Linked DNA regions of Homo sapiens. The protein of the gene in region 3 interacts with the protein of the main gene of each other region in a biochemical or structural test. Each region holds a gene or a part of one and is shown on either strand. Other genes may lie near its edges. The genes, in order: SHANK1, ARHGAP21 and DENND5A.

What was found.
Region 1: the proteins of DENND5A (region 3) and SHANK1 interact in a test that uses a peptide from one of them, tested with the Homo sapiens proteins (one large-scale study listed by IntAct).
Region 2: the proteins of DENND5A (region 3) and ARHGAP21 interact in a test that uses a peptide from one of them, tested with the Homo sapiens proteins (one large-scale study listed by IntAct).

Annotation. Positions count from the first base shown.
Region 1 is NC_000019.10:50,713,297-50,716,950, reverse strand, and holds part of SHANK1 (SH3 and multiple ankyrin repeat domains protein 1), read left to right. Parts: 5' UTR 1-31; coding exon 32-286; intron 287-472; coding exon 473-676; intron 677-1,220; coding exon 1,221-1,292; intron 1,293-2,660; coding exon 2,661-2,769; intron 2,770-3,001; coding exon 3,002-3,153; intron 3,154-3,654. UniProt on the Homo sapiens protein: Seems to be an adapter protein in the postsynaptic density (PSD) of excitatory synapses that interconnects receptors of the postsynaptic membrane including NMDA-type and metabotropic glutamate receptors via complexes with GKAP/PSD-95 and Homer, respectively, and the actin-based cytoskeleton.
Region 2 is NC_000010.11:24,594,778-24,598,431, forward strand, and holds part of ARHGAP21 (rho GTPase-activating protein 21), read right to left. Parts: intron 3,233-3,654; coding exon 3,168-3,232; intron 2,807-3,167; coding exon 2,670-2,806; intron 2,106-2,669; coding exon 1,963-2,105; intron 1,267-1,962; coding exon 1,111-1,266; intron 1,019-1,110; coding exon 940-1,018; intron 414-939; coding exon 340-413; intron 263-339; coding exon 173-262; intron 1-172. UniProt on the Homo sapiens protein: Functions as a GTPase-activating protein (GAP) for RHOA and CDC42. Downstream partner of ARF1 which may control Golgi apparatus structure and function. Also required for CTNNA1 recruitment to adherens junctions.
Region 3 is NC_000011.10:9,199,309-9,202,962, forward strand, and holds part of DENND5A (DENN domain-containing protein 5A), read right to left. Parts: intron 1-3,654.

The DNA.
Region 1 (3,654 bases), on a different chromosome or scaffold from region 3:
CTGCCGTCCCCCGTCGCCCCGTGGCCCCACAATGACCCACAGCCCCGCGACAAGCGAGGACGAGGAACGCCACAGTGCCAGCGAGTGTCCCGAGGGGGGCTCAGAGTCCGACAGCTCCCCAGACGGGCCAGGTCGAGGCCCCCGGGGGACCCGGGGCCAGGGCAGTGGGGCACCTGGTAGCCTGGCCTCTGTTAGAGGCCTCCAGGGCCGCTCAATGTCCGTCCCAGACGACGCCCACTTCAGCATGATGGTCTTCAGGATTGGCATCCCGGACCTGCACCAGACAGTGAGTACCTGCCCACTGGCCAGCGGCAGGAGAGGGACAGTGCCCCAACCGACATGGGGAGTCCACTGGTGCTGGGTATCCTCCCAGGAATCACCCCCACACTCAGCTCCTGGCTCACTTCCCAACCCACCTCAGGCTCTCCTCTGGCCCCTGGCCCACCCTAGCCCCTATCTCTTCCCCAACCAGAAATGCCTTCGCTTCAACCCCGATGCCACCATCTGGACGGCCAAGCAGCAGGTGCTCTGTGCCCTGAGCGAGAGCCTGCAGGATGTGCTCAACTATGGCCTGTTCCAACCGGCCACCTCCGGCCGCGATGCCAACTTCCTGGAGGAGGAGAGGCTGCTGCGGGAGTACCCCCAGTCCTTTGAGAAGGGGGTCCCCTACCTGGAGGTGAAGCTTCCCCAACTCCTTCACTGATAAGAGAAGGCATGCCCTAAAACACATCTGCCCCCCACCCACTTTTTAACACACTCGAAACCTTAACGAGGGGGCACCCAGTGTGCGAGTCCAGACCTTCTAAGCATCACAGGGAAGTCAGAGAGTCCTGAGTTCAAATTACCATCTGTTCTGCTTCTGACCAGCTAAGTGGCCTTGGCCAAGTCACTTTCCTGCCCCAAGCTTCTCCTCACCCATCAAATTGGGGGAGGATTCCCAATTACAGTAGGCACTCTAGAACATTCCCTGTGGGGTCCAGACTCCTCCTCCTTCAAGGCAGGGGTTGCAGTGCACATATACCATAATACCCAGCACTGTCGGAAAAGCCACTGCCACCCATCTACCGCCTAGACCAAGGTTCCAGGGCTGTTTTCACTCCCACCCTGAGCTACCCCGGGGAATTAGAAGGGGATCAGACCTTCCCCTACCCCAAGCCTTCTCCCCAGGCCCCTGATTCCAAGTCTCTGTGTCTCTCTCACTACCCTACCCTTGACCTCAGTTCCGATACAAGACCCGAGTTTACAAACAGACCAACCTGGATGAGAAGCAGCTGGCCAAGTTGCACACGAAGGTGAGAAAACCCTGCTGGCATCTATCCCCTATAGCCCCCTACCACTGGAGCCCCCTACCCAACCACTTTCTCTCCCCACCTCTTCCCAATAGACCTCCACATTCCCCAAGCCAGCGATCCCTCTGGCCACTGCCCCCGCTTAACTTGGGATGCTGTACCACATTTGAGACAACCACAAATACCCCCCATTATCCCCATCACAACCCCTTCTTACTTTCCTCTTTTGCCCTTCATCCCTCTGCCTGGGCCCACATCATTCCCACCTGGCCTCCTTTGAGTCTCCCTTCTCTTCCCCTGCCTCCCCCCATATCCATCCAAGGCCTCTTTACTTCCCCACCTTGGCCTAGGACCCTGACACTGAAGGTCCTTCTGCCTAGAGTCTATTTCAAAGACAGGCTACATTTCTCCCAACCTCATAGCCTGAATCTCTGCAAAATCCAACCATTACACCCCCCTTTCCAGCCATATCTGTCCTCCTGGTACCTTGCCCGCCAGTCCTCAGCCCCTGTCTGTCCTGTGTCTCGATGGTGAGAGCTGGGAGGAAATCGGGAACTGCTTTGGTCAGAAATGAAGAACTCTTGATCCTTGAGAAGGAAAAACTCCCAGTCCCTCCTTGTCTACCCTCTCCCCACCACAGCATGCATTGAACTCTTTCCTCCCCTAAATGTTCCATCCCTCCAGACTTTCACGGTCCACTTTGGGAACCACTGGCCAAGTGTGGCTCCTGAGTGCTTGCAGTGTGTTTGGTCCCAACTAAGACTCGCTGTGAGTGTGAAATACACACTGGGTTTCAAAGACTTAGTACCAAAAAAAAGTTAAATAACCTCATTAATAATTTTCATCTCAATTACCTGTTGAAACAGTAACATTGTAGCTATATCAGTTAAATAACATATATCATTAACACGAATTTCAACACAACTAACACTTCACCCCCAACCACCCTGATTTTTTTTTTTTTTTTTTTTGAGACGGGGTCTTGCTCTGTCACCCGGGCTGCAGTGGTGCAATCATGGCTCACTGCAGCCTCAACCTTTCAGGGTTCAAAGGATCCTTCCAGCTCAGCCTCCCGAGTAGCTGGGACTACAGGCGTGTGCCACCACAACCTGGCTAGTTTTTTGCATTTTTTGTAGAGATAAGGGTCTCACTTTGTTGCTCAGGCTGGTCTCGAACCCCTGGGCCCAAGTGATCCTCCCGCCTCGGCCTCCCAAAGGGCTGGGTATTTTCTCTGTAAAGGAGGCTGCTAGAAGCTTTTCAATGGCGTATGTGACTCCACGTATATTTTCACTGGACGTCGCTGCTTGAGGACCCTGCTTCTCTGCCTTGCTCCTGACTGTCCTGTCTTCTCTCTCTTTGCCCATGGCTCAGACGGGGTTGAAGAAGTTCCTGGAGTATGTGCAGCTCGGGACATCTGACAAGGTGGCGCGGCTGCTGGACAAGGGGCTGGACCCCAATTACCATGACTCGGATTCGGGAGGTAGGGAGGGGTGCGCATCAGGAGGACCTCAGGGCCAGGACAGAGCTGGGGAGCAGGGGTGCCATCTGCATTCACATCCATTCCTGACTGGTGTCTCCCAAACACATTGCTGTCCAAGGGGGAGGCCACGGGGCCAGAGGCTGTGGGGTGGAGAGCTGCAGAGCCTGGAAAATGGGAAGGGATGGAGGGGAGGAGAAGGGGCTTCATGTGACCAGCTTTTCCCGCCCTTCAGAGACCCCCTTGACACTGGCGGCCCAGACCGAAGGCTCTGTAGAGGTGATTCGAACCCTGTGCCTGGGCGGGGCCCACATTGACTTCCGGGCCCGGGATGGCATGACCGCACTGCATAAGGCCGCATGCGCCCGACACTGCCTGGCACTCACGGTGAGGCTTCGGGGACCCCCCATCCCCGCCATGGGGCCCTCTCTCCTTTTCCCTTTGTTCTTTCTCAAACCTCAGTTCTTTGGTTTCAGTTAAAAATAGGCCCTCTCATGTCCCCAGTTCAAAGCCCCTTTCCATAGACTGAGACACAGCCCCTATTGTCACCCTTGTCAGGCCCCCCAGATGCACCCACCTGGGCTATAGCTGACATCACACAGACCCGGGCACGGCCTCCTCCCCTAAACACCCAGAACGTCTCCATCCCCTGTGGCCCAGCTTAATACCAAATCTGCCTCTGTCTCCCCAAGGTGTAAACCCTTCTCATTCCTTAAAATACGAAGTGAGCTCCCTGCTATGCCCCCAGATAGAGCCCCTCCACACACACCCTGAAAACAGCCCCCCAGCTACCCTTCCAAACCAGCACTGCACCAGCTCCCCTCCCTCCTCTCTCACATGCAAATACAGCCCCTTCCCCACGTACACAGCCTCAAATGCACTTTCCCA
Region 2 (3,654 bases), on a different chromosome or scaffold from region 3:
TGACAACTGGTATTTTGGGATCTTTTGCTTTTAAAAACAATTTTAAGAAGGACTTACCCAGTTTGATGTTGAATTACAAACCTTTTATTGACTATTTGGCATGAAGTAATGAAGCATATCTTTTAAACTAAAGCCACTAAAAGTACATTTCTTCAATAAGCATTTTACATACCTTATTTTTTTCTGAATTTTCTGCCACTGTCTTCAGATGAGCTGAAAGGAACTTAAGTGTTTCATAATGATGTTCAGGCAAATCGTGAATCTGAAACAGATTATTTTCACAATGGATTCAGAGGCTGAATTTTAGTTGTATCCCCCAAAATATAAAATAATACCTACTAGTCTTTTTAATGTTTTCAGACGATCTAGAGGATCTTCTTTACGATTGGCTTCAATAAAATCAGCATATTTATCTGACGACAAGAACAATAAAACAAATTTATCTTAAATTGCCTAGGTGAATTGTAATCTAGTTTCCCTTTAAGGATCAATTTTAAACCACAACATAGGAAAGAGTTCTAATAGTTTTGAAATGTAAATTTCTAAAATGTAAGTTCCCTGCAGGAACCATCCTATATTTACACAGCCTGTCCATTCCTCCCCCACCCTCCAACAACATCTAGTAAAGTGTCTTACATGGCACTTAAATACTTGGCTTGACTGAAAAAACATTTTTCTACTCATTGTACCTTATGATGTCAGAAGCCATTTGACTGGAAACAATAATATTAATTTGGCTGCAAACATGTATGAACAAGATAATACATATTTCACTGAACCTAAATAACTTTTATGTTTTTAATATATGAGGGAGAACTAAATAAAGCCTCCTGCTTCCTTTGACCAAGACATTTTGTCCTTGTTCAATTTAATATTCTATGGTTTTCCAATTGTAACTTGAACCATTTCATCTGGTATCTTTCACGGGAGTTAACTCACCATTTGTGAAGAGAGGCTCAGGGAGTTTTCTGAAGAAGGATTTTAGTAAACTGCTTATCACATTCAAATCTCGCCATTTCTAGGTGTACAAAATAGAAATATAGTATTTTCATATCCAGTTCCACCAAAGGGGGAAAAAAAAGGATCAGTTATTCAAATAAGCAAACTTACATCATCTTGTATATCAATATCAGCCATTCCCTTGTTGAGTTCTTCTTGCATACTTGAGATGGCTGCATTATTTCCAGGAACTCTATAAATACCTGTATATTCAAGACCTCTTTCTTCAACTAATTTGCAACATATGTCAACTATTAATGGAATATACTGCAAAACAAGAAATAAACATTTTATTTAATGCAGCACAAATGTTTAGTAGTTGTATATCACAGCTAAAATGCCCCTTTCATCCAAAAGGAAACATAAATTGCTGTTATGTAATATAAAGAATACAGACATTATAGATCTGGGAATAGATAAAACCTGCAAGAGATATTTGAGACAGTAAGAAGAGAACAAAGAGACTGAAAGAAAGAGAGGGACCCCCAGAGAGATAACATTCTAAAAAGGAAGTAACAACAGGTAAAGAGAATGTGGAAACCGTTCCGCTGAATAAAGAGTCAAGAAAAGAGGAGGAGAGAGTAATATCAATTCATGATACGAATCCTAGCATGGGTGTTTTAAATATATGCACATACATTTACATGTATTATACTTTCTTAATCAGGTCCTTGTTCTCATCCTTGTTTTAAAATGCTAAAAGCAGAAACACACGATTTGAAGACGAATTCTTACAGACCATTTCAGACAAATTCCTAATGGTTGAATAATTATTCAATTTCGGAGTCAATACATTAGAAAAAAAGCATTACAGGTCAGAAATACTTAGGGAAACTAAGGTCTGCTATGAAAAGGAAAACAGATTGACAGTCTCTGTTGTCTGAAAGGCTATATACTCAGATCCCATTATAATCAAAACTGAATTAATGACTTGAGGAAATCCGGTGGGCTGGTGTCTCCTACCCGATTAGTATGAGCTGGTGGGCAGTCATCTAGTCGGACGCCGAAAGTTCCTGTAGCAGTTGGCTTTTTCTCAAATGTCTTTCTCATGATACTTGGAATGCCTTTTCTCCATGTGCCTTTGTCTTTTGGGGGACTGGTATCATCTTTTGATTGCCAGTCAAAATAAAACAACATAATAAAATGGAAATGAGTGTCTAAATCATGACTTTAAAAACACTTTATCAATGTTTACATAAATCCAAGTCCTGTAATATAAATAATACATCCTATATTTAACAAAAATATGTTCTCTTCCATATAACTTTTACTTCATTCTTTTATAATGCGTGCTATAATTTTCTTTAAAACAGCAAAAAAAAAAACTACATAGAATCAGTGTGTCATCTTTATAGTGAGACTTCAACAAAGGGAAAAGTAATAGTTTTATTTCAAAATGATAGGACCTGAATCCTCGGAGTCATTTAAATTTGTAATGTCTCTGATTTAAGTATTGTTTGTATTTTCCCTCACTTTCGCTTTATAATGAAGCTGGTGTCTTGGGCCTCACAAAGGGAAAGGCCCAATGAGCCCAGACCAAGCCTACTATGAATTTTGAGCTAGTTGACATGGGGCCTGGTCAGTAGAAATGGTACAGAAAACATAAACGTACCTCAACGATGCCAATTTTAAATCATTATATTTATTTGTTAGAAAGCTAACATCAATACCTTTACTGAGAAGTTTCCTTTCCGACTCTTCCTTCGGAGAGTGTGGGCTTTGAGTCTTTGGCTCTGATTTAGCACCAAGCAAAGTTTGCCTGATGCTGAGACTCTGGCGAGGTGTTTTTGGCAACTGTTCTGCTTTGCTGTTGAAGGAAATGACATTTGTTAACAATTACAGTAATCCCCCTCTATCTATGGTTTCAGTTACCCGTGGTGAGCCATGGTCTGAAAATATTAACTGGAAAATTCTTGGAATAAACAATTCATAAGCTTTCAATTTTGTAGTCCTGCCCAGAATAAGAATCATCCTTTCATCCCGAGTAGCCACACTGTATACACTACCCGCCCATTACTATATGGGAAAAAATATAGCGTAGAGAGGATTTGGTACTATCTGCGGTTTCAAGCATCCACTGGGGGTCTTGGAATGTATCCTTGCAAATAAGGGGGATGACTGTACTGATTTTATATCCAAATTAACTGCAGGCAAGGTGGGATTCTCACCTCATCAGATTGTTGTATTCTTTTATTCTTCGACTAATTAGATCCCTGTTAGTGACTCCAGTGTCCTACAGAATAAAGTAAAATTAGAAAATCAATTCTAAACATAAATAAGTGATCCTTACTTTTTTGAGGCTTTCTATTGTACTGCTTTGCTTATTTAACACAAACACTACTATCATCTGTTCTCAGTGGAGCTGTTTCAAAGCTTCTATTCAACATCACTGTGTGAAAGATTTTCCAAGTGCCTCCCAACATTGCCAAAGGGTTTTGCTTCTTTTCTGTATCCATGCGATACCTAGGATAGTACCAGCAAGTAACATGTGTTCAATACTTATTGAATTGATCCGTCCATTTAAAATAAATGACTAGGAAGCAGCCAGTGTTTTCTCTAATACCAGAAAGAATGATCAGCATTTAAGAAATATACGTGTAAGTGATTTTTCTTCAAAAAGAAAAACAAATAATATAGGTGGATAAAAGATGAAAA
Region 3 (3,654 bases):
CAACATGGCAAAACCTCATCTCTACAAAAAATACAGAAACTAGCCAGACTCGGCAGTACATGCCTGTAGTCCCAGCTACCCAGGAGGCTGAGGTGGGAGGATCATCTGAGTCTGGGGAGGTCAAGGCTGCAGTGAGTCATGATTGTGCCACTGCACTCTAGCATAGGTGACAGAATGAGACCCTGTCTCAAAAAAAGTAACAATAATTTTTTAACAACCAATTAAAAATTATGCTATTAAAAAAACACTAATTCTATATGGACTAAAGAATAAATATTATCTAAAAGTAAATAAAATGACCTATACCAAAAAGAAAACACTGCTTAAAACTGCCAATTCAGCATTCCAAAGGGTTACACTTTCAGAATCTTACAATTCAGCCTGCATTCCTTTTCCCTATGTAACACCTCTTTTCTATTCAGAGGGCAGGACATGCAGCAGGCAAAATCAACTGCAGTGGTGATAGCTTGTTTTTGGCCAGAGTGATTTTTATCCATACAAGGAAGATGTCCTTGGATCATTAATATAACTACTTCAAGAAAACCAACCTAAATTGTTTAAAGCACTCTATTAACAACAAAAAGCATAATTTACATCCAATGAAAAGTAATCCACTCCACTGTGGCCTCAGCCAGGCTCAGCAATATCCAGGAATTTCTGAAAAAAGCTTTCTCTTGTCCATGCTGAGCCTGACTTTAGGTCCTAAGTTAAATTCAATTCTACATACTAACCATCTCAATTACATTCAAACCTCCTAAAATTCTTATTATGGATACAGTAACCCATATTCTAGGAAATACAAAAGAAACTCAGATGGAAGAATGTTATTTTTCCATTATGTTCATCATATTTGTTTCAATCATCCTTTCCTTGCCTCTAAACACCCCCAATGCCTAAAAGCCTACTGTATCTTCTAACACTCTATATAGTTTGGTTTCCTCCTCTCTGTTCTGTTCTAAACCAGAGAAGTTCCTCCCTATTCAACTAATTCTCCATTTCAAAGTATTTTTATGAAGCTCCAGCCAAGAAATAGCTAGGAAAGCAATATGATTTGTCCAAGTCTATATTTCACCCAGAGAGAGGAGGCTCTAACTTCGTATCTTAAACTAGAAGTTGCAAAGTGAAGCCTCAGGAACTACATTCAGCCAGCAGATGCTTTTTGTTTGGCCTGCAGTGTTTAAAAAGAACATTATTGCCAATATTTAAAAATCAGAGATTTCATGTAAAAAATCTGGGTCCTCATCAATTATTGGAATATTTAGTAACATCAGGCCAGTATACCCACAAGGAATTAACTGGAGCTAATTAGCGGCTATCCACTTTATATGAGGTATGTGCTCTTCAGTTCAACATAGTTTCCATTACTTCACCTTCAAACTATATCCAGAACCCAACCATTCCACACCACTTCACTGTTATCTCCTTAGTTCTAACTGACATCACCTCTCACCTGGATTATTACAAATTACCTCTTAACGGAACTCTTTGCTTTCTTCCATTCTCCCTTTGGGGATATACTCTTAATATAATGGCCAGAGTGATCCTGTTAAAAGCCTAAGTTATTCATTTATTTAACAACATTTATTGAGCACCCTTATATACCAGCCACAGTTTTAGTGCTTGGAATCCATCAATGAGCAAAAAGCAAAAGCCCTGCCATTGTGGAGGTCCATTCCTTTGCCCATGGACCAAATCTGGGAAATTTGAGCATCAAAATAAATAATTATAGTGAATTATAACCTGAGTAAAATAAAAATCTATGAATCCATACAATAATAAACAAAGGAGAAAGAAACACTCTTCATTATGGTATAATGCCAATTAATAAATAAAGATAAAGTTTGAAAACCACTATTCTGCCAGCCTGGGCAATAAAGCAAGAACCTAGCTCTACAAAAAAAAAAAATTTTTTTTTAATTAGCCAGGCATGGTGGTGGGCACCTGTAGTCCCAGCTACTCAGGCGGCTGAGATGGGAAGATCACTTGAGTCCAGGATATCAAGACTGCAGTGAGCCATTATTGTGCCACTACACTCTAGCCTGGGTGATAGAATAAGACTCTATTTCTTTAAAAAAAAAAAAAAATTTTAAGGCTGGGCACAGTGGCGCCTGTAATCCCAGCACTTTGGGAAACCAGGCAGGAGGTTCAGCCCAGGAGTTTGAGACCAGCCTGGGCAATGTAGCAAGACCCCATGTCTACAAAAAATAAAAAATTAGCCAAGCATGGTGGTGCATGCCTGTAGTTCCAGCTACACGGGAAGCTGAGGTGGGAGGATCACTTGAGCATGGGAGGACGAGGCTGCAGTGAGCCATGAAGGCACCACTTAACTCCAACCTGGGCAGCAGAGTGAGACCCTGTCTCAAAAGGAAAAAGAAAAGAAAAAGAAAATCACCTTTTTGCTACTATTCTTGAAATAACTGATTCAGAATAGAATCATCAATAAATGCTAAACTATTAGGCATCCATAAACTGCAAATATAATTCAAAAAATAAAAACTAAAAAAAAAATGGTTAGGCAAAACTTTAAAGAAGAACAGAATAATTAGTTTCAAAGTATCTCCCCATGACTTACATGTTAATTACCAAGGGAAAAATTATAACTTTCCAGTTAAGAAACCACAGACACCATCTTAACCAAGTAAGCAGATTAGTATCACCAAAAATGAGACAAAATGACATCATATGCCTGCCTCCTGTAATCATGAAAACTGACAGTATGTGCCTCCTAATATAATGCACTGAGAGAAGCACATCACTTCTATGGTATTTTAGGCAAAAATTTATAATCTGAATCTAATCATGAAAACATCAGACAAAACCAAATTAAGGGACAGTCTATAAAATAACTTGCTTGTACTCTTCAAAAATGTCTATGTCATGAAAGACAAAAGCTGAGAAACTCACAACTAAAAGCAATGCATGATATGGCACTAGATCCTGAATAAGGAATTTTTTTAAATTATCATAACAGACATTATCGGGTACCAGAGAAACTTTAATATAGTATTGTCTCAATGTTAGGTTTTCCAAATTTGATCAATGATAGTTATTTAAGAGAATGTTTTTATTCTTAGGAAATAAACACATGAGAATTTAGGAGTCACAATAACTCTCAATGGTTCAGTTATGTTCACACACAGAGATCATAATAAAGCAAATGTGGCAAAATGTTAACAATTGGTGAATTTGGGATAGGTTATACAAGAGTCCTTTGAATACCCCTCGCGAATCTTCCGTAGCTAGAAATTATTTTAAAATAAAAAGTAAAAAAAATTGAAAACTCTGATGGCTATCTAAGAGCCATTTAAGAGTAAAAGCCAAAGTCCTTACAATGGCCTACAAGATTCTATACCATCTGGCCTCCAGTTAAGTCTCTAACACCATCTCCTACTATACTCCCGCTCATTCACTCCATTCCATCCACCCAGCTTCTGGTTCTTGAATACACGAAGCACATTCTTGTCTTAGACCGTTTATACTTCCTGTGCCCTTTGCCTGGAATACTTTTCCTACAGATATTAACAGGTCACTCAGGGATGCCTACCTAACCACCCTATTACAAACTGGAACTTCTCTTCCCCAAATACTATCCCTTTCCCTGTTTTATTTTTCTTTATAACCCTTATTAAGTACCTTACAAACTACATATTTTAT